Linked DNA regions of Homo sapiens. The protein of the gene in region 2 purifies or fractionates together with the protein of the main gene of each other region. This does not show direct contact. Each region holds a gene or a part of one and is shown on either strand. Other genes may lie near its edges. The genes, in order: FEZ1, MYO1D, SAAL1, ATP6V1A and FSD2.

Region 1 (6,267 bases), on a different chromosome or scaffold from region 2:
CTCTGTCTCAAAAAAAAAAAAGAAGAAAAGAAAAAAAAAAAGAAACTGGCTCTGCGTGAGAAACCCATACGTACGATGATCCTGAACATTGTGTTTTCATGGATCTACAGAAGGAGGAATGGCAAAGGTAGCAGGGGTGCATGGCCACTTTCTATGTAGATCTCCAGCCCAGGGAAGGGCACAAGGAAGGCACAGGCAGATGCTGGCAGCCAGCAGCCTCAGCAACAGAGGAGCCAATGCAGCCAGGGCAGGGGGAAACAGCTTTCTGTGAGGAAGAGAAAGGGAAGGGCTGTCTATCCCATCATATATCCCATCATAAGCAGGGTTCTTGGGAGTGTGCATCACCCCTTTTGTGAGTACCCGGAGGTGGACTGTAAAGTTTTACTTCCCTGAGAAGCATCCTGCTATTTACTCTTACCTTGGGGAAAGAAGACTTTGAAAGCTATCTCCTCTATCATTCATCAGAGAACTAAGATTAAACAGGTTGCCTCAGTTCCTATCATTATGCTGCCATGACACCTGAGATTCAATTTGCTCTCTCCATCCCTGTATAACAGAAAAGGCTTTTTCAGGTGCATATTTTATAGCTTGGGCTTAGGTGCCTGTAGAATTGACTTAAGTATCTTTCGCCACAGAGAGCAGGGGCTTTGGGAAAGGCTGCTGGCAGAGTATGAGCAAACCCAGTGGAGGAGGGTGGAGACTGGGGGGTGCCAGGACACGTGTACAAAGAACTCCAGGGCCTGGAACTGGCAACATAGCCATCAGGGTTCTCTCAGTCCTGATGCACACGTAAACCCTTATATACCTATTTCTGACAATATGGCAGGCAGCTTAAAGGGCTTATTAGAATTCTAACTTGCTGACATTTCCCTCAAGCCTGGCTACTTCCCTTGTCTAGTGTTTTGCTGGTGTGCAGTCATGCCAATATCCACACCCAAATGTGTATTAATTTGAGTACACCTTTGCACTTTATGTTTAGAAAGTAGAAATTAGTGGCTGGGCGTGGTGGCTCACGCCTGTAATCCTAGCACTTTGGGAGGCTGAGGCGGGTGGATTGCCTGAGCTCAGGAGTTCGAGACCAGCTTGGACAACATGGTGAAAACCCATGTCTACTAAAAGACAAAAAAAAAAAAAAAATTAGTCCGGCGTGGCAGCGTTTGCCTGTAATCCCAGCTACTCGGGAGGCTGAGGCAGGAGAATTGCTTGAAACAAGGAAGCGGAGCTTGCAGCGAGCCGAGATCATGCCACTGCACTCCAGCCTGGGCAACAGAGTGAGACTCTGTCTCAAAAAGAAAGAAAGTAGAAATTATTAGCAGCACATTAATGCGTTTGCTCAACTTTCTAGATGTCCTCAAATGTTTAAATAGAATCAATACTATATCCGCTTTCTATAACCTCTAAAAAGAGAATTAAATTTTCTAAAAATCACAATTATGTGTAGTTTTCCCTAGCTGACTATTTGGTATTTACTTGTCTTCAACATGTAGTATATCTGATGACAGGCAGTTTATTGTGTGCACTTTATTTTTAACATCACCTATAACAATTCTATCTGAAGAAACAGCCATTGCATGGTTAGCCCCTCTGTCTTCAGGGTACTCGTAAGAGGGCTGATAGGGATCCCCAGTGACGTAGGAGGTAAGCTGAGGGCCGTCAATTTCCATTTTGTAGTGACCCCTAAGAGGCTGTGACCTCCAGGCCCAATCTCTTATGGCAAAGGAAGAGGGTGGTCACATATACACAAAGAAGAGATTCTGGGATATTTCTTGAATGCAAAACCAAAAAATGTGTATTCAAATCTGACTCTCCTTTAATGCCTAGAACTTCCATGCCCTGACAGATCAGAGATAAGTTGACAAATCTTAGCCAACTCCCCTCTTGGCTAAATAGTTCCAAATGAAGACTAAAGAAAGCTTCTAAGGGAATCACTACATTTGCTCTATGATTTGTGCTGTCTTTAAGGAGGCAGTTTAACCAAGTATTTCCCTGCTTTTGTTTTAAGCTTCTATTATTTACCTCTAACCCATCCACAGCACTTTTCACTCATTTGTGGATGAAACAGCCCTCTAAATACTAAACCGGAACAAGTTTATAACAATAACATTAGAGCTATGTTCAGGAGAAGTGTAGTCAGGTGAGATATTAAGTCACCCTTTTCCTTTACTTAGCCATAATTTCACAGTTGAAATATCTGGATAGTGTCTATGAAACAAAGTGTGTAACAGAATTCTGATTTTTATTTTAAATTATAAAGAGGGGTTAGAACTGAATGCCTAGAAAGTGTTGTGTTAATTTTTCTCTTCCCAGCTTCCTCCCGCTACACTGTCCCCAAATTATACCTTATCTCGAAGGAATTATTCAATCTTTGGTCTCTTAACTGAGGCAGTCAATGAGGCAGTCAAGTCAGAAAAATCAGGCTGAGGAGGCCAATAATCCCATGTGATGGTAATTAACATTGAGTGGCCTCTTCTAATGTGCTAGAAGACAGTAAGAATCTGCTCATTGGGCCTTCATCCTTAATGAGGCAGAGGAGGGGTTTTGATAGGGGGGAAATGATTTGTTGGAAGCAAAAGGAATGGGACGCATCTTGAAATGTCATTTTCAGAGCACCTGGGCATCCTGGGTGAGGTAAGAAATTAGGTTCTTTACAAGTCCTTAGCCTCACTTCATCAAGATTGAGCTCTGGAGGTTTCATAGATGAGGACCTACACAGTCAACCAGGGTTAAATGACTTGCCCAAGGTCACACAGCGAGTTAGAGAGAGTACCAAAATTAGAATTCATAGTCTTTGTATTTCTAGTTCATTGGCTGGTGCACTAGAACGAAAAAATATTCGGCATAATAAACCCCCAGAGCCATTCTTTTTTGACTTATAAATGTTGAGCAGATAACAGGCTCAGAATCTAAAAAGAATCTGTTTGAAACTTAAAATTTAAACACATAGCCCACAGCTATAGTACTAGTCAGCAGAATGAAATGTTCTCTGTGATCATACCTTCCGGCCAGCATTAATTAAAAAGAAAAGAAGGAAATGGTGTGGGCTTAGAAATATATTACATGTACATACAAGGCTACTAGCTATTATCACTCATCTAGTTTATTTGATATTCAATATTTCATTCAAAAATATTATTTGCACATTGCACTGTATTAGACAGTGGGGCTGTAAGAGTGAATCAGACAGATATTTGGCCCCTCTATGTGTAAAAGTAGAGTCTTACAGTAGTCATCAAATAAGCAACCCTCTCCCAAATACAGTCAGGTTCCAATCCTCTAGGACGTGCCTCTTACCCCATTATTTGTGGGCCATTCTTCCCACTCAAATCCACAAAAAGGGAAACAAAAGCACAGGTGCTTCAGACTTCCCTGACGTTTGACATTTCTTGTGTGATAGCTAAGAACAATGGATGCATATTGTATCTCTGCAGGGAACTCATGTAGACAGTAGTCCCCCCTTATCTGTGGTTTTGCTTTCCCAGGGCTCGGTTATCTGCTGTACAGTACAATGAAATATTTTGAAAGAGAGAGAGAAAGAGAGACCACATTCACATAATTTTTATTACAATATATTGTTATAATTGCTCTATTTTGCTGTGAGCTGTTGTTAGTCTCTTACTGTGCCTAACTTATAAACTGAACTTTATCATATGTACGTACATACAGGAAAAAACATTAGGGTTTGGTACTAGCAGCGGTTTCAGGCATTAACTGGGGGTCTTAAAACATATCCCCCACCATGGGCCAGGTGTGGTGACTCACGCCTGTAATCCCAGCACTTTGGGAGGCCAAGGCGGGCAAATCACCAGGTCAGGAGTTCGAGACCAGCCTGGCCAACATGGTGAAACTCCCATCTCTACTCAAAATACAAAAATTAGTCGGGCATGGTGGCGCACACCTGTAGTCCCAGCTACTCAGGAGGCTGAGGCAGGAGAATAGCTTGAACCTGGGAGGTGGAGGTTGCAGTGAGCCAAAATTGTGCCATTGCACTCCAGCCTGGGCGATAGAATGAAACTTCATCTCAAAAAAAAACAAAACAAAACAAAACAAAAAAACACATCCCCCGAGGATAGCGGGGAACCACTGAATTTTTACTAAATGCCTAAGACATCCTTCTTTAATTTGTGTAACATATCACCCCCTTCTCTTTCTAGTCCCTCCTGAAAGAGTACTTTTCTCAGATCCCTTTTCTTGACTACTATTAAGACCCTAGAAAGTAGCGAGCAAGTGATACAAGGAATCTGCATACTCAAAGGCCACATCACCTAGTTTCCACCTTTACTTTGTCCAGGGTAGCCCGCTGTGCTCTCAGTTCAGTTTAGATGCTTTCTTATGTGGACATATCCTAACATCTGTAGATAACTCTCCAGGCCTGAGGGGCTGTCAAAAATTCGGGATTTTCAAAATTCTGGTGTTTCTTGAAGCAAATTAGTCCAATAACATAGATTCATCCATCATGGTTAATTAATTTTTTCTGGCCTTTATTTCTAATATCTCGCTGGATTTCCACTGATATAAAGAAAGCTTAAGATAGACAGACCCTGAAATTTACTGTGCTCCTGAAATTCCATTTTGTATCTAGGAAAACCTTCATTCCTCTAAGGTTTCAATTTAAGAAAGTTCTCCTCAGGGGACTGTAAAGGGACATATATAGAGCTATGACAGCAAGTACCAGGGCACTGCTCCGCTGGCAACACGAAAATGAAAGTAATAGCCCATAAACCTATAGACAGAAACCAGCACTATGTCAAGGAGACAAGGACTACAGGGCTCTCGACTGAAGCAGGAGAGGGCAATTAAGACTTCTTACTCCTCGTCCTGAAGGGTCTCCTCCTCCTCTTGGATCTGTAACTGGTTCTTCACGGGAGCTAGGTTCTCGGTCTTGGCGTTGTAGTTCCGAAAGCAGACATTGAGCTTCTCATCAAATTCATTTACGAGGTCCTCCATGGACTTGAAGCTGATTATTTCGGAAGAAAAATTCTCAAGCTCGGAGAGGGAGGGGTCCTCGAGATGGTGGGGAGATGAACCATAGAAACACTGGGGCTTCTCCTCCGGGTCCTCCGAGCAGGAGGGTCGAAGGTCCTCAAACTCTTCATCCAGACTCACCAGTGGGGCCTCCATTCTTGCTCAGCAGGAGAACAACAGCGACTTTCAGGATGAGTTTATCTAAAAGAAATGAACAGCGTAATGTGAGTTTAGACCAGGCTAATCTAAATAATAGAGTTAACTTTAGAGACACACCTGCTTCCAATTCCCTACTCCAAAAAACAAGGCACTGGTTAAGTACGAAGCTCCTGGACAAGATCGTCTAGGTTTGCATTCTGTTCTGTCCTACCAGCTGTGACCTTGGGCAAGTGATTAATTGCTCTGTGCTTCTTATTCTTCTCAAGACAGATATAATACTGAACCCACCTCAAAGGGCTGTTAGAAGACTAAAGGAGTAAACACAGGTGAGTGCTTAAAACAGTACCTGGAAGATAATAAGTGCCAATATTATTGAATACTTTCTGTTGGTGTTTTAGTATTATTATTTTTATTACTATTACTATTACCACAGATCCATATCCTTAACTATGTGATCTGAAAGCTGAAAATTCTCCATGACTTGTTTGGCAGCAAAATGTGACATGATCTAAACTCATCTGGCAACTAAACATGACCAACATGAATATAAAGCTGTTCATGGCTTTAATTTATCCCATTTTGTGTGTTTTGCTGCAGAAATATTAACTTTTTAATTACAAAGATTGCTATCCCAGATCCCACTGGATGAAATGCGGAATGTACACTCTATTACTACTTTCCAAAATCTGAAATAATCTGAATTCCAAATGCCTGGCCCCAGGGGTTTTGGATAAGGGTTTGTATACCTAGATATTACTACCCTTATCAATAAATAGTAGAAACTAATAAAACATTGGCTGGATGTGGTGGCTCATGCTTGTAATCCCAGCACTTTGGGAGGTTGAGGTGGGAGGATCATTTGAGCTCACTCAGGAGTTCAAGACCAGCCTGGGCAACATAGTAAGGTCCCATCTCTATTTTTATTTTTTTAAAAAAACTAATAAAACATCAATAGAGACCTTCCAATAAATGCCTGAGTTGTTTTTGTTTCGTTTCGCTTTTGAGACATAGCTTCACTCTGTGGCCCAGGCTGGAGTGCAGTGGTGTGATCTCAGCTCACTGCAACCTACACCTCTGGGTTCCACCAATCCTCATGCCTTGGCCTCCCAAGTAGCTGCGTGTGCCACCACACCCAGCTAATTTTTG
Region 2 (6,267 bases):
ATATACTCATAATAGACCATTCAAGTGACTCATGTATTCCCATTTCATGCTTTAAAATCCAAGGTTTTATGCCAGTTATTTGTACATGGCTTTTAGCTCCATTTCTAGTCTTGCATGTTCTCTTCTGTATCTTATGGACTGAAACCTGTAAACTGGGTAGTTTTTACTTTGTTTTTTATACTTTTCTGATCTGTCTAAACTAAAGTTTCTCAAATAGGGGAATAGGGGGAATTTTGCTCACCAGGGGACATTTGGCAATATCAGGAGACATTTCTAGTCAAAATGGGGTAGGGGTGCTACTGTCATTTGGTGGGTAGAGGCCAGGGGTGCTGCTAAACATCCTACAATGCATAGAACAGCCTCCACAACAAAGAACTATCTGGCACAAAATCTCAGTAGTACTGAGGTGAAGCAGTGTAGGTCTAAATATTTACTTTCATTATGGGCATTTATTACATTTCTAATTAGGGAGAAAAGTTATTTCCATCTTTGGAAAAAAAATCCTAAAAATACTCAAAAAGCAGGAGCTCTATATTAATAGTTGACATCTTAGACTTCGGGACTGTGAAATTAAAGACGAAGTCTTTTGTCCCAGGGACTAAAGAATTACCTTCCCTAAAATCCCAATTATATTATTAAAAGCTATTGGTCTCTGCTAGTAACTTTCAGTTTGTAAGTTTAATACTGCTTCAAACATTGCTTAAACCAGTAGTTTTCAAACTAAGTTCTTCCAGCAACTTGGCATTCCCGTAAGGTTTCCTAAGGGATACCAGGAGCCAGAAGACTTGTGATGGGGTAGCTTAGGGACATGGGGCTCTGGCCTTTCATACCCACTCCAGATAAAACAGCTTTGTGCTTGAGTATCAAGTTCTCAATAGTTAAAATGATTTGCAAACTACAGCATCGAAAGCTTTTAAAAGTGAATGTACCAGATAACCAGACATTATGAACCTCCTGGTGGAAGTTCACACACAGTCTATGAAATGGGCTGTGGAAAAAAACTGACTCTGAATCCAGTCAAGACTCTAGATCTAACAACCAATATACAGGACATACAAGAAACAGAGAAACATATTAAATGGCACCTGAGGAATGCAATTAGCAAAATCCAGACTGTGGGGAACTCCATAACAAATGACTCATTCTCTTCAACACAAGATTGCAAAGAGAGATCATTCAAGGAAAAAAAGAAACATGGAGAAAATCTATAGATATGCAAGAGACCTATCAATCAATCATAATGTAAGAAACTTATTTGGATCCAAATTTAACCTGCAAAACAACAACCAGAAGACAATTAAGGAAATATGAAACATGTATACTGACTGGATATTTTATGATATTAAGGAATTTTTGTTAATGTTTTAGGTATGATAATGGCATTGTGATTATGGTTTTTGTAAAACTCTCTTAGAGAAATACATGGAAATATTTACTGAATAGATACCCAATTGAATAGATGAAATAATGTGATATCTGAAATTTGCTTCAAAATAATCTGGGAGTAGGTGGGTATAGTACAGATGGCATAAGACTGGCAATCAACTGGTACGTGTTAAAGCCAGGTGATGGGTATATAGGGTTTACTGTACTATAGTCTGTCTTCTTAATGTGTGTTTAAAATTTTCCATAATAAAAAATCTTTTAAAAAGAATCACTATGTTTAGAAGTTTGGGGTTTTACCCAGAATAGAGATTCTAATTGTGGGGGGATCTGCCATGTAGTAAGTAACTGTTACCTTGGAGTTAGCCTTCTGCTCCCTCTAGGACAAATAGTTCTTGGTTTATTTAGCGAAAATTTTTTGCATTTTGGGATTCTTAATTCTTTTTGAGATGTTTGGAACAGTCCACTGCATTACTTACCCTGTTGTCAATTATGTCTGTGAAATTTGATATTCTGATTGTGAAAGGATATTTTTGACTAGTACCTTGGAATCACATTTGAATAACAAGTTTTATGATTAAATTTGGTATTAAAAATCCAAGCTTCAGTTATACCGTGTATTATATTATACAACAGTTTCATTCTTAGAAAGCTTCATATACACTTAATTGAACTGAATTAAATTTTAATTGTATTAGGAGAGTTCATTATTTAAGTCAAACTATAGATAATTCTTATATAAAATAGCCCTTTGGTTTATATGCAGATAGGTAAAATTTATGCCAATATACCTGAGCAACTGTTTTATGGTATTCTAACGTTTAACACATGATGGAAGGCAGATACAATTTTGAGGCGGGAAAGCTATTTGTTATATCACTGTCTCTTTATTTCAGAATGAGAGGAAATAGAAAATAGGTAGGAAGGAAGATAAAAGTCATTTAAATATAGTATTTCAAATATTTTTTTGCTGCTATTATATTGGATAACAAAAAACAAATACTGGCTTCATTTCTATTCTCTGGCAAGAGGATGAACAATCATATAAACTCAAACTACAGAAACTTAAAAGTTTTTGTATTTTTCAAGTTTATTCTCAAAATTGCTTAAAAATACAAACTTACAAGAAAAATTACTATGTCTCATTTCTATCATAAACAGAAGGTCTTATCACAGGAAATTTAAAAACCAAACAAGTCATGCCTTTTAGCTTTGATCTCTGTGGTTTGCACTGTGCACCCATTATACTTTCCAGCTATATCTTACCAGATTAGTTTGCCTCTGACAAATACAAAAGTTCCCAAAGATTGATTAGAGTAGAGGTGATAATTGAAGTGTAATACACAAGAAAATGCAAAGTAAAACAAGTATTTTAATGTGTAGGTTTCAGAGAATATAAACAACATTAACTGAAGACAATAAAATACCATATAGTCTACAAAGTAGAAGAGGAGAAAAAGGAGGAAAAAGGGAAGAAGAAACTAGATTCTGAAGCAAAGTTCAGCCAATTTAAGGTATAACTTAATAAAGTATGCTAAACCTAACAGACAGATATAAACCAGTAAGTCCACGTGGTAGCAGCCATAAAGTGAAAACAGGTTTACTGGTTCTAACTCAGGATGTTCTGGGCATCAACAAGGCAGTCTATCAAATTATAGCAATCCCACCTAAAAATGATGAAATTAATTGTATTTACATATCCCAAAAAGGAAAGCTAAGGTTCAGATGTTTCAAATACCCCCAAAAGATCAAGAAATACCTAAAATAAAATTTGACATTATCAATAATATGAGAAACACATGAAGGCATTTTCCATAAGAGTCCACTCACATGTTTCCAGGGGATCCCTTCCCGCTGGTATTCCTCTTGTTCTTGCTTCAGAACCAGCTGAATAAATAGCTGCTGCAGTTTCTCATTGCAGTAATTGATACAGAATTGTTCAAAACTACAAGAAAAGGAATAAATTAAGTTTCAACAAATAGAAAACAGGCAACAAGGTTTTAAGTATCTTTTCCAGTTTACCTGTTGTTGTCAAAGATTTCAAAGCCATAGATATCCAAGACACCAATAACAGTGTTTTTCCCATGGATTGTGGTGTCATAGTTCTTGACCTCAATAATATCATTGATGCGAGTAACGATCCAACAAAAAAGGCGCTCATATATTGCCTGCAAGGAAAATAGCATCATAAATGCTTGCCAATTTGGGAATGAGTCCTCTGTTTGGATTTGTGATCAGTTTTAAATTCCTGTCCACCTTCTCACTGTTTAGCATAGCCATTACTGGCCTCAGCAGAACAAATGAAAATGTAGACTGTCCATTTAAAAAAACCCAAACTACCTGATGTATGCAAAACTAAAGTAAATAGCTTGTATTTTTAAAAGATTATTACCGGTCATTATACCAATTCCAACGACACTCTCCAGGCATGTTTCCCTGCCCGGCTATATCAATAGTTTGCCTGATCCCTTGAATAAGCCAGTTCATTGCTTTATTATTAATTTCATCAACTATAAAGAGTTGAGAGCTAGTGAGTTAATATCTATGATCCACTAAAGCTATATGAATTCTAAAAAATATAAATATTGATTTCTAATGCTAAATGAAGATCTGAGCCAAAGATCAAGGGTTGAAATTCCCTGAGAATCGAACACACATCCAATGCACAAGAACACACACACTAAGCCACACATGGACAAAGGTGCCACACGCTAACACACATTCACATCCCGATACACATGTGCTCTGCAACGTCACATCGTTAGAAAACCTTCCTTAACGTCTCCTGCCAGCTACCCACTCTCTTCACCCATATCCATTACCTCCCCTTTACTCTTCAATCCACTCCAGTCTCCACTTACATCCTATTACTCCATTGAAATGGCTCATCAAAGACTCCCAGCACCTCTACATAGATACTTCTCGTACCTCATATGGACATCTTGCTCTGTCGCTCAGCATCACTCAACCTAGGTTTTCACTGCCTTCTTGGAACACTCTTCTCTCTGGATTTCGGATAATAGCCTTTCTGAATTTTACTCTTTGTTCACTGGATGTTCCTTTTTGGTGACCTTTGGTAGAGTCTCCTCTTCTACCTGACTTGTAAAAGTTGGAGTTCTTCCTGGTCCTCTTCTCTTCACTCTCTAGCACCTTCTAAATCATCTCACCCAGGATTAAATAATACAAATATAATATGACTCCCAAAAGTATTATCCAAATCCAGACTCAGAGAACAGTCTCTGAGCTCCTGACTCAAGAGCTTGACTGTCTACCTGACACTGACTCTTCAATGGCTCACAGCCATCTCAAACTCAAAGGACTCTTGATCTTTCCTCTTCCAACAACTGTTCCTATCCTACTTTTAGCCACAAATAAATAGCACCACTTAGAAATTCACTGATTTATTCAACAAATATTTGCTGAATACTTATTATATATAGTTTGTTAGAGATACAGGTCTAGGCAAACACAAACATAGTCTCAATGTCCAAGAAACTTAGGGAATAGAGTGAAGGAAAAAATTATTCTCTCTGTCTCTCTCACTTGCCCCCCACCTCGCAGATAAACATCCACACTAAAGGAGAGGTACATGGGGTCTTAGGGAAATTTAATCTATGCAGTGCTCAGGAAGGTTAGGGAAGGCCTCTCTGGGAAAGTGATACTTGAGACCAGAAGGATGAGTAAGAGGTAGCCAAGCAAGAGAGGAGAGAAGAGCAGTCCAAGCAGAGGGAACAGATGTGCACAGGCCCTGTGACTGGAAGGAGAAAGGGATCAGGATAATCTGTGAGGACTGAGAGAAGACTAATGTGCTGGGCTGAAGAAAGGGGGGCTGGGTATAGTATAAAATGAGGTGGGAGAGGTGGGCTGGAGCCAGACCATGTTAAAGTATTATTCTTGCTTCTCTCATTCTCCACATAATAGGTCCTATGGATTTTATTTTCTCAACACAGTCCATTTCAAATCATCCTCCTCTCCCCATTTGTACTTTCACTTTTCTGATTCAAGCTGCCCTCATCTCTTTCCTGGATTAACAAAATATCCCCTTAATTGACCTCTTTGCTTCCATTCTTACTCTAGCCCCCATAACATTCTCCATACTAAGGCCAGAGTGATCATTTTAAAAATGCAAACTTGCCAGGTGCAGTGGCTCATGCCTGTAATCCCAACACTCTGGGAAGCTGAGGTGGGCAGATCACCTGAGGTCAGGAGTTTGAGACCAGCCTGGCCAACATGATGAGACCCCATCTCTACTAAAAATACAAAAATTAGCCAGGCATGGTGGCGGGTGCCTGTAATCCTAGCTACTCAGGAGGCTGAGGCAGGAGAATTGCTTGAACCCGGGAGGTGGAGGTTGCAGTGAGCTGAGATCATACCATTGCACTCCAGCCTGGGTGACAGAGAGACACCGTCTCAAAAAAAAAAGAAAAAAAAAAAAAGACAAAAAAACGGCCGGGTGCGGTGGCTCACACCTAATCCCAGCACTTTGGGAGGCCGAGGAGGGTGGATCACAAGGTCAGGAGATGGAGACCATCCTGGCTAACATGGTGAAACCCTGTCTCTACTAAAAATATAAAAAATTAGCTGGGCGTGGTGGCGGTCGCCTGTAGTTCCAGCTACTTGGGAGGCTGAGGCAGGAGAATGGCATGAACCCGGAAGGCAGAGCTTGCAGTGAGCTGAGATTGTGCCACTGCACTCCAGCTTGGGCAACAAAGCGAGACTCCATCTCAAAAAAAAAAAAAGGCAAACTTGATGTCATTGCCCCTCCTTAAAGTCCTCCCTATTGCTCTCCATTGCACTTAGGAAAAATTCAAATTCCCCCAAAACTAAAAACCAAGCCTAAGACTTACAAGAGTAAAAAATGAAATAGACAGTAAACTAATCAAC
Region 3 (6,267 bases), on a different chromosome or scaffold from region 2:
CCTACCAGTTGATACTTTATCATTTTGGTTTGCTTGAATAATCAGAACAAAAAAAGACTGCGATTTTTATAGTATGAACGTTAAGGTCCGCTGCATCACGCATCAACAATAATGATGTTCTGAAAATGTCTCAGGATTAACCTAGCTCCCTAGCTGAGAACACTAAAACCATGTAAGTCTAATTCTTATGATCAACCGTTTGGATTCTCAAAAATCTAAATAGTTTGGAAACTCAAAATCTTAGTTCTTCAACCAAACAAGTGAAAAGACAGTGAACAATTAAAACAATGGTTTGGCAAATGTTTATTTAAGTACTTACAAATTTCAGGCACTATGTTAGGAGTTGAGAAAACAGATGTATAAGATGTTATCCCTACCTTCATAAACTTTATACTCTAAAAGGAAAGAAGATTCCAAGTGGGGTAATTACAATAAAGTGGTACTAATGTAGCACTATGGGCTAGGAACTTCACAAAGCAAGGAGACTTAGTTTGCAGGGTCAGGGAAGGTATCTTAAGAAAAATGATGTTTACACAGAAACATGAAGGGGCAAAGAAGTGTCTGAGGTGGAGGAAACATACTGTGCAAGGGCCTGGAGACAAGACAGCCTGGTTCAGTTGAAGAAGTGACGCAAACTTCACATGACTGAAACGCAGAGTACAAGGAATAAGGATAGCGCTACTGGGTCCATAAGCTGTACTTTATTTTTTTGAGAATTTTTCATTTATTTCATTCTTTTTTCCCCTATTTTATTTATTTATATTTTGGATTCAGAAGGTACATGTTGGGGGTTGTTACATGCATGATGCTGAGGTTTGGGAATATGGATGGTCCCATCACCCAGGTGATGTATGTAGTACCCAAGCTGTGTTTGTTTGTTTGTTTTTCTGGACCTTATCCTAAGGAAGGCAACTGAAAAGACCGAAGCATGAGAGTGAAATGAGTGCGTACTTTGCAAAAACAGCTTTAAAGTCTAGGCTTGGGAAGAGCAAGCATAGAGGCAGGGAATTCAAGTAAAAGAATGTGGCAGTTCTCCAGATGAGAAACAATAATGGCTTGATTGGCATGGATGGAATCCCAGAAAATGTCAGGAATAAGGGTTGGGAGTTGACTGCAATGGGAAAATACTGGGGCAGGAAAGATTCAGTAATTGGCTTCTCCATTTCTTCTACATTATCCAAATAGGATAATGATTACATCATTTACTGAGATTGAGAATACTGATGAAGCAGGTTTAGGGAAAGATGATGAATTTATCCCTCACTTGGATAAAGGACACAAAATTAATAGGTTTTGATGTGGCTTACTCAGCACTAAGAATGCACTAAGAAAAACACTAAGCAGATCAATTTAAAAATTAATTTTCTAGTGATTAGCAATAAACAGTTTTAATGACCTGTAAGGCTTAGTAATCACTCTTGGCAAGACATCAGAGTCCCAACATCGGTCACTTATTGAAGACTGGCATATAAACACAAGGAGCAAAAAAAAGCAAATGATGTGCAACGTTAATGAAGTTGTTAAATGTTCAATGTAAAATAAAGCACAAGAAAATGTTTTCTCTTTGATTTAAATTACATAAAATATGGTAAGACAGAAACCACAGTTAATGTTGAGTAACAGCCTATAGCTAAATGATAATATAACAGGAACTTTGTAACCACTATACAGGTTGCATCACAAATAGTAGTAGTGAATTAACGTAACAAGGAGTGACTATGTACTTTATTCTGTTGTAAGGAATATAAGAAGACTTTTATATCTGAGAATACTTCTAGCAATTGCATTTTCCCAGAACATTTTACACAAAAGAGCTCACCTACCGTACTTGTTTGGCAGCTTCAAGTATACAGGGCACAAGCCGAAACACTGGCTGCTCTTCAGACTCTTCCTGGGGTTGGTCCAGAGGCTGAGCAGCCCCATTTCTGACCCATTCTAACATTAGTTTCTCATCCAAATCAAAGAGCTTGTCCACAACCTCCCCCACCTTCACCAGCAAGTCAACTGCAGAGAATAAAACAGATATTGAAATGAAAAACAAACTGCTAAAAGCAATAGGGTTAAGCAAAATTCCTAAAGCTATTCTAAGAAAACCAAATCTTGCCAAAGCAGTACTTATTCTAAAGGGTGATTTACTTATCTTTTATGTTTAAATTTGCTTATCTTTCCTCATTTTTAAATGAGGAATTTATCAGTGTCCCAGGAGTTTAAGAAATTTTGTATCTTCAATCAAAAAACTTTCTCAAAAAAACAAACAAAAAGCTGGACATGGTGGCTTACACCTATACTCCCAACACTTTTGGGAGCCCAAGGCTGGATGACTGCTTGAACACACGAGTTGGAGACCAGCCTGGGCAAGAAAGCGAGACCCCGTCTCTACAAAAAATTTTAAAATGAGCTGAGCATGGCGGTGCATGACTATAGTCCCAGCTATTGGGGAGATTAACAGAAGGATACCTTGAGATCAGGAGTTTGAGGCTGTAGTAGGCTATGATCACACTACTGCACTCCAACCTGGGTGACAGAGCAAGATTCTGTCTCAAACAAACTTCATTACCTTGCACTCAAGGCTTTTTTTAAAAAGGTGACTTCTAGAAATAGTTACATGGTTTCCTAAAAATTAGATACAATTTAAAACATTTTTTTTCTAGAGTACATGATGACTTACCATTTGTTGAACTTGACATAATGAAGCAAATGCTATCATAAATAGCTGGATGTTCCTGGATCCTTTCAACCCAAACACTGGCCACTTCTGCCTGGGAAAGGCAAGTAAGCAACAACCTACATGGTAAACGTGGGTTGAATTTCTACTTTTCAAAAAAAAAAAAAAAACAGTAAAGGAAATTCGAAAATAAAAAATTAACTTTTTTTTCTTATCTACTCTTATGAGTAACCTTATAGAATTCATAAAAGGAAAAGCATACCTGCTTGTTTCCAGCAGAGTAGGTGGGTCTGAATCATACAAACAGTGCAATAACACCTGCCTACAAAAACAAAGAAGTTAACCGATATGCCTCACTTCTCGCATTTAAAATATCAGAGTTTTCATTTAATTTTTTGAACATCTTTATTGTGAAATACAGCATATATTCAGAAAAGCTCAAAAGATACAAATCTATAGTTAATAAATAATTATAAAGCAAACACTCGTGTTTCCAAGAAACAGAACAGAGCTGCATCTTTGTAGTCACCATGTGTCCATTCCAAATCACAATTCTCTTTCCCACCTAGAAATGATGACCATTCTGATTTTTCCAGCAATCATTTCCTTACTTTGCACTATAGTTTTATTATTTTATATATTTTGGTGTTGCTTTATACTGCAGGTAAAAGGATTAAGAGGACATGCTGAATAAATAGACATAATCTGGGAGGTTATTTGGATTCATGAAGACAGTCAAGGAGGGGAGACAACATATGAAATAAATTATACTTATTGAGTCTTCATTTATTTGCTGAAAATTATACATGTAAGATCTACCCATGTTGTTTCTTTAGCTGTTATTCTTTGACAGACTGCTGCAGAGCACTCCATTGTGTGAAAATAACACAATTTATTTTTCCAGACTACTGTTGATGGACATTTCTGTTGATTCCAATTTGGGGCTATTTCAAGCAATCCTCCTACAATATTTGTTAAGAGTTATCCTGATGCACACGTGCACAGTTTCTCTTACCATATATGCCCACTATGAGCTGGTCACAGCACATGCATATGTTCCAACGTGACCAGATAATGCCCAACTAAAGTGGTTCAACAAATTTATATCCCATCAGCAATATAAATTGCACCACACTAATATTAAGACAAGCATTTAACTGAATTTATAACATTTGTTAACATTTCTCATTTTTGGATTTTTGATAGAGAACATTAGAGACCAAACATAATCTTAAGTCATTTGTTCCATGGATGATGGTAAATTACTGAGGAATAAATACTCTGAACTAGGATCTTAAAGTCCCTCCACAACTAGGAGTTCTCTCTTTCTGAGAAACCCAGGTACTTGAATCCTGTGATAAAACCCTCATGGCCCCAGCTCTGACAAAAACTGCCTAGAACAGTTTTCTTAACCTATTTTGGGTACAAATTTCTTTGAGATTCTGATTAAAAGCCATGAACCCTTTGCCTAGAAAACTAATACACTCACAAAATTCAGCATATAATTTCGGGGTGTTCTCCGAACACAGTAACCACTGGGGTTTCCTCCATTAAAACACCTTCTGCCCAGAACTTTACACATGGAGAAGAGAACGAGCCTCGAAGCAGATATCTGAAAGTCTTTTCATCAGAGAGGCAACCCTTTATCTTCCAGTTGTTGGCAAGTCTTACACTCTAAGTCAGAGCTCTCAGGATGACATTATTCAACAAATCTAGTTTCTGTAGACTCCAGCTGAGTCATTGGATTCCCTGCCCCTAAACTGTTTTGGATTCCAGTTGGCTGCCCCATCTCCAAGTTTTGGCCCACTGGTTCTTCCCCTATCTGGCTTATTGCCACCAGCTGACAATTCAGGTTCCTTTGCTACTGAAGAAAACAGGCTTAAATCCTGAATCATTTCAGTATCTCCTGAAGAAGCCCCTAGCTATCATCAACACACAATGAAGTTCCCACAGAGTGTTCATCAAGACAAAGAAAGGACTGTCTTTCAGATTTGCTACTTTTCCTATGTATTAGAATTTCCTTAAGGATATAAATGAATATATTAAAAAACATAATTATATAGTAAGACTTACCCAAGATTTTTATCACTGCTGATGGACACACATATCTCCTGGAAACAGGCCATATTACCTAAAATTCCCACACAGATTTCCTGCCAAATCAAATTTTACAAGTCACAATGGCTCTGAGACGAAAGACGTAAACAAAAATATCAACTTGAACAAAAACTTTCGCTGAGCCAAGTTTTGGGGCAAGGCGGAGGGGAGGCAGGATAAAGAAATACATATACTGCCTGTACCCTAACCTTGACAAGCTTACAGTATTTGAGAAGGGATGAAAAACGTAAGAACAAGAAAGGGCAAAGGCAGGAGCTATGCGAGAAGAACTTCTATCGATAAAATGAGTTTTAAATGATTGATAGGAATGAGATATGCAAACAAAAAGACAGACATTCAAATAAGGGGAAAGTATCAGCAAAGGCAGGAAGGGAATCATGTACATGGCGAATACTGTAGACAATAAAGTACTCTGGTTGTGGCACAAAGTGGGTGAACAGCATGAGGTAAATACTGCAGGTATAAAGGACTGAGATTAAGGGCTCTGAATGCCGTGCTGAAGAATTAGACTTAATCTGGGAAGTTATTTGGAATCATGAAGATGCTCAAGGAGGGGAGACAACATACTGAAACAGTATCTTAGGAAGATTACTCTGGTGGCGAAATGCATAATGTATTAGTGTAGTCCCTCTTTATCCATGGTTTCAGTTACCCATGGTCAACCTTGGTATAAAAGTACTAAATAGAAAATTCTAGAAATAAACAATTCATGTTTTAAATTGCATGCCTTTCTGAGCAGCACGATGAAATCTTGCACCGTCTCACCCAGGATGTGAATCATTCTTTTGTTCAACATATCCACACTGTATGTGCTGCCTGCCCATTAGTTACTTAGTAGCCATCTTGGCTATCAGATCGACCATCGGGATATCTCACAGGGCTTGTGTTCATGTCACCCTTATTTTACTTAATAATGACCCCAAAGCACAAGAGTAGTGATGCTGGCAATTTGGATATGCCAAGGAGCCGCCATTAAGTGCTTTCTTTACATGAAAAGGTAAAAGTTCTTGACTTCATAAGAAAAACAAACAAAAATGTATGCTGAGGTTGCTTAGGATCTCTAAGAACAAATCTATCCATGAAACTGTGAAGAAGGAAAAGGAAATTTGTGCATATTATAAATAGGGTTCAGTACTATCCTCGGTTTTAGGCATTGGGGGCCTTGGAATGCAACCCCCAAGGATAAGGGGAGACTAGTGTATAGGGAAAAGAAGTTGAAAAGAACTTAAGAATCTATCTCAGTAATAGTTAATTAATATGTAATAACAGTTTATTACCACTCACGGTGGCCAGGCATTACTCTAAGCATTTTCTGTGTATAATTTCATATAATAACTTAGGTGATAGGTACTAATAGTATCCCCATTTTTTCAGATGAGGAAACTAAGGCACAGAGAAGTTAAGCTACTTGCCTAAGATCTTAAGATCTCCAACTAGAACACGGCAGAGCTCCAGAGCTTGAGCATTTAACCACTATTCCAAAC
Region 4 (6,267 bases), on a different chromosome or scaffold from region 2:
ACATTCACAGATATTCCATGCATTTCTAACTCTGTTCCCTCTTTCCCCATAATTTAAAACTCAAAATTTTAGCAAACGTTAAAAAGCTTGAGAGTTGTACATTTAGCCTCTGACATTTCCTTTTCTCTGATACTGTCAGAAACACAAGTAAATATTCTGTTTTTCCCACATGAATAATATACACATATCACTTTTTTTTTTTAACTATAGCTCTGATTTGTACACATCTTTTATTTGGGCTTCTTTTAATAGCCAAGCTGGCTACCTATCCACTAAAATTCATGTCTTGTCACTGGAAAGCAAATGCTTAGGCAGAAACTGCATTTTCCAGCCTTGCTTTCACCTGGATGTGGCTAATAGAATGAGTGGAGTGACTGTGTCACTTTTGAATCCAAGGTTCAAAAAAGGTGGGTATGCCTTCTCCACAAGGCCCAGCTCCCTTGTGTCAGCTAGATGCAGATGATCACCAGGCTAGGTGACAGTGGAGTCACAAGATGGAAAGAATCCTGGACTCAGAATTATCACTAAACAGAAGAGAGCCTTGGATCATACTGTGAAGTGAAATAACTTCTGGGTATTACACATTTTTGGGCCTCTTTGTTTCTATAACTAGGGTTACTATGACTTAAAGGATAATACTACTCTAATACTAATAAAATTTTTGCTACCTATATTTTCCACTTATATATTATTAAGTTTATTATAAATCCTATGTAAACAGCTAAGAAAAAAACAGACAGTATTAAAGGCTCTGTGTTAAGAGTGTTTCTAAACCAGACTTTACCATTGCCTATCCTTTAGAGACTAAATTAAATACTTCACAACGATTACATTAGATCGCATTAGAACAGCAGGGGCTGCAGAGAGGAGGAAAGGCTCAGAAGTTGACTATACTAGGGAAAGACATACCTGAACGATACCAAGAGTGGCAGATGTAACTGGATCAGAAAAATCACCACCAGGTGGAGAAACTCTAAATTTAAAAAAAATATGGTCATTACAAAAAAAATGGTCATTAGAAATGCTTATGAAAAATAACATATATATAAATGTTAACTTTTTTTAAAGTCGATTTTAATGTAAATAACTTTTTAATGTAAATAACTTTAGAAATGACCTTTGGAAAGAAAATCTTACCTAAAAATCTTAAACAAAAGCCAGTATTTAAGTTGTAAACAACAATAGAAACTACAGAACACCTTCTATTATGAGACATGAGATAGATATTTTATTATAATCAATTTTATTATTCTAATCAAATAGATGAAGCAAGGAGGAAACGCTCTAAGAAAAAAGTATGGCTTTATGTAGTGATCACGAATCTTCACTTTCTTTTTACCGTGATGCAATCTCACCTTATTATGTCTATAATTTTCTAAATTATAAAAATTAAATAAATATCTAAATTAAACATATAAATATATAAATTAAAGTCAAACCTATGGAACCAGGACATGTAGAAATTGCCTAAACATGTGCATCTTCAAAGAGCTCCTTAGGTGACTCTGGAGTGCAACCCTCCTTAAGAACCGCTGCTCCCAGCGGGAGCTAAATATTCTCTCTTTAAAATAAGTGACTTTTTTTCTCTCTTTAATACATCTGTGACTTTTTTCCTTTTGCAAAGTAAATAGTGTGGGTGCTTACGCTCCTACAATGCTGACACTCCCTTCTCTTTCAGGATTTCCAAGACATTTCACCCTGCCTGCTCGTTCATAAAACGAGGCCAGACGGGCACCAAGATAGGCTGGATATCCACTATCTGAAAAATGAAAAGAAATTTTAAAACAGAGTTTCTAAGCCAGCCCCGAAAATCCCATCAGTCTTGTTTACATGATAAGCAATACACAGACTTACCTGCAGGCATTTCAGCTAAACGACCAGAGATTTCTCTAAGGGCCTCAGCCCATCTAGAGGTAGAGTCAGCCATCATACTGACATGATAGCCCATGTCACGGAAGTACTCTGACAGTGTGATTCCTAAATTGGGAAGAATATTATTATAAGTTACAATGCTAGCATATAAAAATCCTGTTTTTTTCCACCCTTAAGAAAACCTTAAAGCAATAAGTACACAACGTAGACTGCTAGTGGCTCCCTCAAAGCTGCTCTTCCTCTTTTTCTGGGCACACACTGAATTGTTTCCTAGCATCCTGTGCACTTAGATATGGCCATGTAACTGATCTCTGGCTAACAAAACTCAAGTCAAAATAATGTGTTCTACGGTCAGGCAAGTCACACGCTCTTCCATACTCTTTCTTCCTTCTGGCCTACTGAAATGGAAAGAACTCCCAGTAGTCTTGGAAGCCATGTGTTGAAAATGGTAGAGCTCATTTCAGGCTGGATCATGGCTCAGAATGACAGAGTAAAGAGTGCCCTGAACACTTGAAATAAACATCTATTATATTGAGCAAATATATATTTGGAATTATTTGATGCCATAGCCTAGCTGGCCCTAATATAATGCACATTTTAGAAAGCAGGAAATGACTTTCTCTATTCTTTGTTGAAATAATTAAGTCTGAAATTAATTTTCAAATGTAGCTTCTCTCTATATATCACATACACACACACAAACATGTATGCATGCAAAAGTAACCCTTAACCAATCAGCTTGGGTGGTTACTTTTCAAAAGTAGCAAATGTTATTAAAATGAGTAATATCTTAATTGTCCAGATTATTCTGCTATGCAGATCAGGTCCTATCCTGTAAATTTAGACAGTAAACCACTTATAAGCAGCTAATATACAGAAACGAGTGTTGGGTTCTAGTTCCTATTCTGTCATTAACCTTAGCAAAATAACTTGATTTCCCAGTGTGGCTTCCTAACCTATTAAAAATGGAATAACGCCTGCCCTATATACTTGTATATATGGCAGATGAAGTGAATTAAATAAATGTCATCTAAAAAGTACAAAGCGCTATGAAACACTAAGATATTAGGAAAAATATATAGTTATATTATAAAAGTTCCAAAAGATTTTGGAACTTTTATAATGCCTTGGTTTTTTTATTTTACTGGTAAAGAAACAGAGGTTTATATAAGTAAAATTAACATAATTAGTGGAAAATTCAGTACTTTCCTATTTATCATATTGCATCTTTCAGAATAAAAAATACTGACTGTTCAGGCATCCATAAAATGGTCTCATGAAGAAAGTCTTTAGGAAACATTACTTATCAATATTAAGGCTTCAACAACACAATAATTACCACATATTCCAATCTAATAAGAACAGATTCTTTCTTATACAAGCATGCTGTGTTTTAAATCTGTGATGAAATGTCACAGATACTTGTGATATTAGAAAGAAATGGCAGAAAAGACAGATACATATGAGTAAGTGAGAATTCTCTGACAGACCTACAGGTATCAGTGCCTACAAGAAAAATATGCCTCAGACAAAATCAAGAGATAAACAAGCTGGGACATATTTGCAACTCATGACAGATAAAGGACGAATTTATTCATTAATCAAAGAGTTTCTGGCCAGGCGCGGTGGCTCAAGCCTGTAATCCCAGCACTTTGGGAGGCCAAGGTGGGCAGATCCCCCGAGGTCAGGAGTTCGAGACCAGCCTGGCCAACATGGTGAAACCCCATCTCTACTAAAAATACAAAAATTAGCCAGGTGTGGTGGTGGTGCATGCCTGTAATCCCAGCTACTCGGGAGGCTGAGGTTGTAGAACTGCTTGAATCCAGGAGGCAGAGGCTGCAGTGAGCCAAGATCGCACCACTGCATTCCAGCCTGGGTGACTGAGTGAGACTTTGTCTCAAAACCAACAAACAAACAAAAAAAAACAACAAAAAACCAAAAAGAGTTTCTAGAAATCAGTATGAAAAACAACTATCATCCAAAAGGAAAATGAACACAAGGCAGTTTTTAAATGGTTCATACACACAAGAAAGATGCTAGTTCATTGTTAAATACAGATTGAACAGGTATCTAATAAAGCAAGAATAGTTAAAATTTCAATTGTCAAATCTAAGTGCTGGGTACATGGTATTCACTGTAACATTCTTTCAACTTTTCCGTATCTTTGATAATTATCATAAGAACGTGTTGAAAAAACTAGCATTGGTGAAGATGTTGAGAAGCAGAAACTCTTGTCCACAGTTAGCCCTTTTGAAGGGCTATCAGAATGTAAAATAATAATTAGCAGCTGTATTGGCAGGAATTTTGCTTCTAAGAAATTACCCTAAGAAATGTACAAAGAGGCCAAGCATGGTGGTTCATGCCTATAATCCCAGGACTTTGGGAGGCCAAGGCAGGAGGATCTCTTGAGGCTAGAAGTTGCCCATCCTGGGCAACATAGTGAGACCCCCATCTCTACAGAAAATAAAAAAATTAGCCAGGCATGGTGGCTCATGTCTGTAGCCTCAGCTACTTGGGAGGCTGAGATGAGAGGATCCCTTGAGACCAGGAGGTCAAAGCTGCAGTGAGCCATGAACATGCCACTGCACTTCAGCCTGGGTGATAGAGCAAGACCCTGTCTCTAAGGAAAAAAAAAACATGCAAAGAAACATGCATGCAAAACATACAAAGAATAGTGTAAAAATATATGTTTAAGGATGTTTTAGTGCTGCCTATCGTAAACGACGATAAAGAATCCAATAGTCCACCAAAAAGATGCCAGTTAAATTGATTATGATATATCCATACAAAGGGATACTGTGCAGCCATTTAAAAGAATAAGGTAGCTTTCTTAAAATGGTAGATGAATATGTCACTGTCTCTTCCTCATAAAACTTACCTCCAAACAAGGAGAACAAGAAATACAGAAATACAAATTTAGTCATTAAAAACTAGGAGACATAGTCCCACAACAATATAATTTAAAAAGTCACCTAAATAAGGTGAAAACCAAATAAGGGTATGGAAAAATGCCAAGAATTCATCTGAGGCCATGCATCTCAGATAAAGCTTCTGCAAACTTGAAGGCACATCTTCAAGTGCCTTGTTTGTTTCCAAACAAAGCAAGAGTGCTTTGTTTGGAACACTGCAAAAAGCTACATGGCCAGTCGCAGGAAGGAGTTCCTTGTACTCAGTTTGGCATCAAAGAGAAGCAGGAAGATAGGGATGAATAAAACACAAGTAGGTACTCCCTATTTTCACTAAATGAAAAGTGGGTGAGACAGAGGAGAATTCACTGTGAATGGTCTTACAGCTGCTGATTTCTGGTATCAGGCAAGAAGAGTAAAATAGCTTTTTTACACAGCTGCATGCCATAATAAACTTCACAAGTTACCATGAAGAATTCCTGCTACCCTGGTACACAGTCACAGCCAGCCCTCTCATCTCCTACAAAGATGAGTAATAGTAATAATAAATATCAGTACAGGATATCTAAACAAAAATAAAATAAGGAAAAAGACAGAAGAGAAGAATACAATGATGGTCAAATAACTTGTCAAAGAATAAATGAAAACTGTGACCACAGTTAAAAAAAAAAAAAAACCCTAATAATGCAGCCTACTACAAAATAAAATCTCAAGGCATATGGAGTAAGATAAGAAGAGATACTTGATGAGCTGAAAGAACAAAAAGAAATAGAAGTGAAGGTTTCATTAGAAGCAACACAAAGAATAAATACCATTTATCCTGTGAACAGACACAAGGCTAAATAAAAAGGAGTAGAGAGGAAATGATGCACATGGAAAATAGATAACAAAAACCTAACATGTCTAGTTGGTATATTTGAAGAAGACAGCCATAATGAAAAAGTTTCAGATGCAATTTTCTAAATTTTTCCAAAATAAAAGACATATTTCATAGATGAAAAGGGCACATTATGTATCCAGAAAAATTTAATGAAACTATCAATATTGGAATATATCTTAATAAAGTTAAGAGACTTCAAATTTAAAGAGAAAGTCCTTTGGGAAAAGAGAAAAATCACCTACAAAAGGAAAAAAAGAGGCCAGCTTCAGCTTTTAATGTCCCCAGCATTTAATACTAGTTCTCACAGAAAGAAATATTGATCAAGAATTTTATACTCAGCCAAACTACTATTAAAGTTTAAAGGCAGTAGAAAAAAAATAAATTTATGAAGAAACAAGAATTCAGAGAACACAGTTGCCATAAGTCTTCTTGAAGAAACTTCCAAAAGTCAAATCTTAGCCAATCAAGAAATGGAGAAATTATAGCCAAGGGACTGTTGGTGAGCATTAACTCCATTTTAATGTAGGTCTACAGCTAATTCAAATATTGGCTTTATGGCTACAGAATAGAATGTAAGTTTTATAAATCCTGAAAATGTAGAAATAAAAG
Region 5 (6,267 bases), on a different chromosome or scaffold from region 2:
CTGGAATTACAGGCACCTGCCACCACACTCGGTTAATTTTTGCATTTTTAGTAGAGACGGGGTTTCACCATGTTGGCTAGGCTGATCTCGAACTCCTGACCTCAAGTGACCCACCCGCCTCAGCCTCCCAAAGTGCTGGAATTACAGGCATGAGCCATTGCACCTGGCTGAATTGACGGCCTTCTATGGGCCCAGTACTGTACTAAGAATAGCGGTACTCAGCCCCTGACCTCAGAGACATTATGATCCTAACAGACGGACAGAGACACACTGGATTCTACTGCATGCACACTCCATGATGCAGTGTTAACCATATGCCAAGCACAGTGCTGGGTGCCTGGGAAACCAGAATGAGGGACTTGGAGAGGAGACAGCCACAAACACAAGAAGTAGCAATGAAGTGAGAAAAGCAGACCAGAGACTGTGGGAGGGAATGCAGAGGGGGAGCCAGCACTCCTGGCTATGCTGCTGTTAAATGTGGGTCAGAGGACAGGAGCGCAAGAGTGAGTTAAACCTTCCAGCTTTGAAAGGGATGCCTGGTGCTTGGGCCTGGGTGTCCTAGCCCCATTCTGACTGCAGCTCTGCTTCCTTGTACAGGTCTGTTGTGGGCATCCCGACCTGCGAGTCCGTGGTGCAGCTGCAGCCGGGGCGGAGCTACATTATCTATGTGCGAGCCCTCAATATGGGGGGCCCCAGCGTGAGGAGCGAGCCAGCTACAGTCCACACCATAGGTCTGTGCCCCAGCCCACAAAGTCTCTGGGACCCAAAGTGGCCACTCTGTGGCAGACCCAGTGCTGCTATGACTTCACTGGGAAATTGATGAATATGCACAGATGTGGACACGTGGCAAGTCAGGCCAGAAGGAGTTCAGGGGTGTCCCATACTGCCCTAATTGCAAGTCAAATGGATCATTAAGAAGTCCTTCAATTCCTATTTCCCTTGGCAAATAGGTTAGAAATTCTTATCCATACACAGGCATTACAGCTAGAGGTAAAGAGCACAGCCTCTGGAATCAGAGGGGCTTGGGGTTCAAGTTTAAGTTCTATCATTTGCCAGCTGATTTCTTAACCACCTTGTGCCTCTGTTTCCTCATCTACAAAATGGAAATAGTGACACCTGTTTCTAAGGGTCGTCGTGAGGATTGAAGGGGATACTAGGCACACAAGACTGCCCGATGAGTGTCAATTGCCATCCTTGTTAACTGGACGCCTATTACTAGGCCAGGTCCAGGCTTAGGTGTATCCCACACGAAGCTAAACCGGTGACCACCGCCCACATGGAGAAAGCAAGTGATTGGCTGCGGGTCTTCTGTGTGTTCCTCCTCCCACAGGAAGCTACTTTCGCCTAAACAAGGACACTTGCCATCCCTGGCTGACCATTTCTGAAGACGGACTTACGGCTGTACGAAGTGAAAGGAGAACCCCCGCCAGGGAGCTGTCACCCAGCGACACTCACTTCACCAGGTACTTTGTCAACCGCTCACAAGGGCGTTCTGTGAACTTCCCGAAGGTGCACTGTTATTCAGGTCAAATCCGAATATGGCACGGAGGCAGCCTCGAGGGAAAAGGAATCCTACAAATGAGTGAGGAGGGAGGAGCCTAATGGGGAGGGGACCCAGAGGAGTGTGGGCAAGAGGGGTCAGGCAGGTGCAGGCAGAAGAGCCCCCTGGGACGGTGAGGTCAGGAGAGGGCGCGGTCCCCTGGGAGGGCATGGTCCCTGGGTCCTAGGCTGCCAGAGCTGGAGCAGCCAGAGGTCATGAGGGTGGGACAGGAATTACTAGTGGAGGGTGTCCAAGTTCTTGGCGTTCTGAACAAAGAATTGGACAAAATGCACAAACAAAGCAAGGAAAGAGGCCAGGCACGGTGGCTCATGCCTGTAATCACAGCACTTTGGGAAGCCGAGGCAGGCAGATCACCTGAGGTCAGGAGTTTGAGACCAGCTTGGTCAACATGCTGAAACCCCATCTCTACTAAAAATATAAAAATTAGCCGGGCCTGTTGCGGGTGCCTGTAATCCCAGCTACTCGGGAGGCTGAGGCAGAAGAATTGCTTGAACCCGCGGGGCGGAGATGGCGCCACTACACTCTAGCCTGGGCAACAGAGTGAGACTCCTTCTCAAAAAAAAAAAAAAAAAAAAGCAAGTAAAGAATGAAGCAACAAGAGCAGAGATTTATTGAAAACGAAAGCACACTCCACAGGGTGGGAGTGGGCCAAGCAAGCGGCTTAAGGGCCGGGTTACAGAATTTTCTGGGGTTTAAATATCCTCTAGAGGTTCCCACTGGTTACTTGGTGTACACCCTATGTATATGAAGTGGCTAAAGTGAAGTTACAAAGTCATTTACTGGGTGTACACCCTATGCAAATGAAGAGGATGTTTCCTGCCATGCTGAAATACAAAGCTATTTACTTGGACTTAGAAGGTTGGGGTTTTTCCGTTTAATTTAGTTCTAGGAAGTCCTTAGGTTCCCTGCCCCCAGACCCTGTTCTCCTGCTTCACAGGGGTCATGCTGTGGGCTAGTGGGAGAACAGAAACAAGGACCCAGGTCTCCCACCAGTTAGCCCAGTGCTCTCTCTCCTGCACTGTGGTACCTTACAGCAAAACTCCTGATGGAAAACTGGCCATGGAGTGAGTCTGTTCCAAAGTTCAAGGCAGATAATTGCTTTGTACATGTACATATGAAAGAAGCCGGAAAGATCATGTTTGGAGAAATATAAGGAATTTGGTATGTCTGCGGTATAGGATCCATGACGGGAAGAGGTGGAAGATGAGGCAGGAAAGTCGGAGAAAGTCCAGTATACACACAAAAAGTTAGGATTTTATCCTCTATGTGGTGAGAATTATTGGAGGATTTAAAGCAGGGGAACAAGATCAGATTACATTTCAGAAAGATTCCAGTGCATGGTAGAACGTGAGCTGGGGAGGGAGAGGGAAAGGCAAAGGCAGATGGGAAACAGAGACCAGAGAGGAGACTATGGAGGGCTTGACTACGCAGTAGCATGGGTGAGAGGAGCCAGGGGAGTCAACTGCTGTTGAGCACATAAAACCAACAAGGCTAGGTGCTCACCTGTTTAAAGGGCAACAGAGAGGAAGATGAGTCAGGGACTATCATATTGCCATATTTATAGAGTGCTTACCAAGTGCTAAATGTATTTCATCTCATGCAATCATCCTAACAGCCCTGTACTATTACCAATCCCAGTTGACGGATGAGAATACTTAAAACACAGAGAAGTAACTTGCCCAAGAGTATAATGCTATTAAGGGTTGAAGCAGGAATCAAACTAGAAGGTGAGCTTGTAGCCACTACATTATTCCCATCTTAGTTTTCCACCAGGGGGTTACCGGGTAGATAATGACTCTATTAACCAAAATGGAGATGTGAGAAGTATGTACCCCTCCCCACTACACCCCAAACTTTGGTAGATAAGAGGGGTGGGAATATGACTTTTTCCATTTGGGACATTCTGAATTTGAAACAACAAGTGGAAATGTGAGTCTGGAGCTTGAAGCAGAGATGGCCTCATTTTATAGGTGAGGTAACCGAGGTAGAAGTTAACCAACATGCAACCTCCTTCCCAAAGCTTTGCTTGAGCAGTAAGAACTTGGGGTTTTGAAAGTAGAGAGAAAATTTTAAACTGAACAAATCTTTCTAGGGATGTTGAGGTCTATATATATTTTGGTTAATGTAGGAGTCTCCTGAAGAAGGTAGAATATTCACTTTGGAGATACCAGTATAATTTGATTTTCACTGAAAACCTTCCTCTGTTGATACTTTGCTGATGTAGAACAAAACATAACTCTAATCTTTGTCAGTATAATTGTTCCCAGTGCAACAGTGGAGGTAGATTTTAATGATCTGTGAGGAATCTGCTATCTTGTTCTCCTTGGGCTGGCCTCTGAATTCCACCAGGAGTCATCCCTAACATGATGGCTACCTCAAAGGCCTTCCATGTTCATTTAGTACCATAAGCAATGGTGGTGAACTTCAAGCTTATGGTTCCCTTAACCGTGCTGTGTTGTGTATTTTCAACCCTTTTCTTTTTTTATGAACAAGTGAACCAAACCTTTTTCTATGAAAGCCCCAACCATTTTAAAGAGCAAACAAAACTTGTTCTGTTGGTTTAGTGCCTCCTCCTCTCCCATTACCAAGCAGTAACATAATCTCAAATCTTCAGTATCAGCCCACTGAGCTTTGAGAGCTAAGGGTACTTTACAAGTTAAGTGTCCAGAAGCACCTACCACCACGTTCGTAGACCACCGACTGACTGATCCCAGCAACTGGCATCACTGACCTGCACAGCCAGGCTTGGGGCACCCCAGATCACACATGCTTCCACTTTCTAAAACCAGGTGTGTTGCTGTCATGGGAAATCTAATTCCAGTCCGAGGGCACCATTACTGGGAGGTGGAGGTGGATGAGCATTTGGACTACAGAGTTGGTGTGGCCTTTGCAGATGTCCGTAAACAGGAGGATCTGGGAGCAAATTGCCTCTCCTGGTGCATGAGGCACACATTTGCATCATCAAGGTAAAGTAAAATCTGGATACTCACAATTAAAATTTGCTTTTGAAAGATTACAGCAAGACCTTTTCACTAGCAATAATTAAGACACACGTTATATTTTACAAATATTTTAAGATATTTCAGGAGTTGCTGCCAGCCACTTTCCCTAAAGTCCAAGTAAGAGGAGAAAGAGCAGCTTTTCTTCAACTAAAAATAGCTAAAATTTATGGAGAATTATGTGCCAAGTACTCTTACATGCATTATCTCATTTACTTCTCACAATTGTGTTATCTCATTTGAAAAATCAGAATGCTGGGTGCAGTGGTGTGCACCTGTAGTCCCAGCTACTCAGGAGAGTGAGGTAGGAGTATTGTTTGAGCCCTGGACTTCAAAGCCAGCTTGGGCAACATAGCAAGACCCCGTCTCTAAAAAAAAAAAAATAATAAAATAAAAAAATAAAATAAAATAAAAGAATAAAAATAAGAAGACCACACCTCACAGCAATTAGATAATCCAAACGACATGGATTTGGAACTTGGATTCAAACTCAAGCAGTCTGGTTCCAAAGATTTCATTCCTAACCACTTAAGTGATAGATTTTTCATTTCTGTTCACCTTTAGTATTAAGCCAATACAGTTTGCTTTGAAGCCCCAGTTCCATCTTTTTAAGTAAATGTGGGCAAGAGGCTTAGTAGTTATGGCTAATTCTGGTTTGCTCCTGCTGCTGGGCACTCTGTCTTTACACATGGAGTAGTTCCATATAGTGGGAAAAAAAGTCTCACGAAGCCCAGGCCAATGAATACACTTTCAGACTTAGAAGGCCATGGTTACAACCTTCCTTCACCTCAAAAACTGAAAAACAAGACCCCACACTGCTTTCCTATCACACCTTGTAAAATGGGGCCTCTGACCCTCCTTGATTTGATGAATCCTATTAATGTTCATCCAATGCTCTCTGCCCATGATCCTCTATCATGGTTATTTACACATTATGTGTCATGCCCAAGCATAAGTGGGAAAACCAACTTCCCCTCCGATAACAGATGAAGACTCTAATGAAATCTACTAAACCTCACACCCAGTTTGGGGAATCCAAGAATTACTATACACTGAGGCAGATACTTTATTTGGGGATTCTGCCTGAAGTAAGACTAAAGAGCAAAGTCTCTTCTTTAGAAAGGCAAGAACAAGGGGCAGAGTAAAACTAAGGGAGCATAAAGAAAGCCTAGAAGTCCACGTGTAGAGGGAAGAATAAAGGGGGTAAGAAGACACAATAGAAGAGGGGTGGAAACAGAAGAATGACAAAAGAAGGGCAAAAGCTACAGTCCAAGTGCTAGAGCCAAGCCAGTTTCTTACAGATGTAGGGTGTGTGTGTGTGTGTGTGTGCGTGCACGCACACACGTGCACACACGTTACAAGTGGAGAATGAAGGTAAGGTATCCTAGGATAAGGTCTCCTAGCAGACTTGCATTTTTGGCTCATAGTATTAGACTTTATTGGTGGTAGCATAGAAAGTAGAAGAAACGACTCATAGCTTCTGGCAGCTGCTTAGTTAAATTAAGGTGAAATGGGCTAGAGACAGGCAGGCTTCCTCTGACACGTTTAGATCATATTCCAAGTGTTTATCCCAGTAGCCTAGACTAGCCTGTTGACACAAAGAGCTCTTCAAATATCTGTAGGTAGCAGGGTTAGGAAATTCCTGTGACAGGTTTTCATTTCTGCCATTTTTCAAAGTACACAGGATGTAGAGCATGGATAGTGATA

Evidence for each region.
Region 1: the proteins of MYO1D (region 2) and FEZ1 purify together in Homo sapiens (co-immunoprecipitation; one large-scale study listed by IntAct). This does not show direct contact.
Region 3: the proteins of MYO1D (region 2) and SAAL1 purify together in Homo sapiens (co-immunoprecipitation; one large-scale study listed by IntAct). This does not show direct contact.
Region 4: the proteins of MYO1D (region 2) and ATP6V1A purify together in Homo sapiens (co-immunoprecipitation; one large-scale study listed by IntAct). This does not show direct contact.
Region 5: the proteins of MYO1D (region 2) and FSD2 purify together in Homo sapiens (co-immunoprecipitation; one large-scale study listed by IntAct). This does not show direct contact.

Annotation. Positions count from the first base shown.
Region 1 is NC_000011.10:125,484,660-125,490,926, forward strand, and holds part of FEZ1 (fasciculation and elongation protein zeta-1), read right to left. Parts: intron 5,164-6,267; 5' UTR 5,119-5,163; coding exon 4,808-5,118; coding exon of another isoform or gene 4,804-4,807; exon of another isoform or gene 3,540-4,803; intron 1-3,539. UniProt on the Homo sapiens protein: May be involved in axonal outgrowth as component of the network of molecules that regulate cellular morphology and axon guidance machinery.
Region 2 is NC_000017.11:32,757,077-32,763,343, forward strand, and holds part of MYO1D (unconventional myosin-Id), read right to left. Parts: intron 3,552-6,267; coding exon 3,406-3,551; intron 3,329-3,405; coding exon 3,214-3,328; intron 3,051-3,213; coding exon of another isoform or gene 3,036-3,050; exon of another isoform or gene 2,736-3,035; intron 1-2,735. UniProt on the Homo sapiens protein: Unconventional myosin that functions as actin-based motor protein with ATPase activity. Plays a role in endosomal protein trafficking, and especially in the transfer of cargo proteins from early to recycling endosomes.
Region 3 is NC_000011.10:18,087,507-18,093,773, forward strand, and holds part of SAAL1 (protein SAAL1), read right to left. Parts: intron 4,819-6,267; coding exon 4,739-4,818; intron 2,988-4,738; coding exon 2,928-2,987; intron 2,785-2,927; coding exon 2,669-2,784; intron 2,005-2,668; coding exon 1,824-2,004; intron 1-1,823. UniProt on the Homo sapiens protein: Plays a role in promoting the proliferation of synovial fibroblasts in response to pro-inflammatory stimuli.
Region 4 is NC_000003.12:113,790,582-113,796,848, reverse strand, and holds part of ATP6V1A (V-type proton ATPase catalytic subunit A), read right to left. Parts: intron 1,978-6,267; coding exon 1,855-1,977; intron 1,760-1,854; coding exon 1,645-1,759; intron 974-1,644; coding exon 910-973; intron 1-909. UniProt on the Homo sapiens protein: Catalytic subunit of the V1 complex of vacuolar(H+)-ATPase (V-ATPase), a multisubunit enzyme composed of a peripheral complex (V1) that hydrolyzes ATP and a membrane integral complex (V0) that translocates protons.
Region 5 is NC_000015.10:82,760,362-82,766,628, reverse strand, and holds part of FSD2 (fibronectin type III and SPRY domain-containing protein 2), read left to right. Parts: intron 1-597; coding exon 598-731; intron 732-1,330; coding exon 1,331-1,463; intron 1,464-4,350; coding exon 4,351-4,527; intron 4,528-6,267.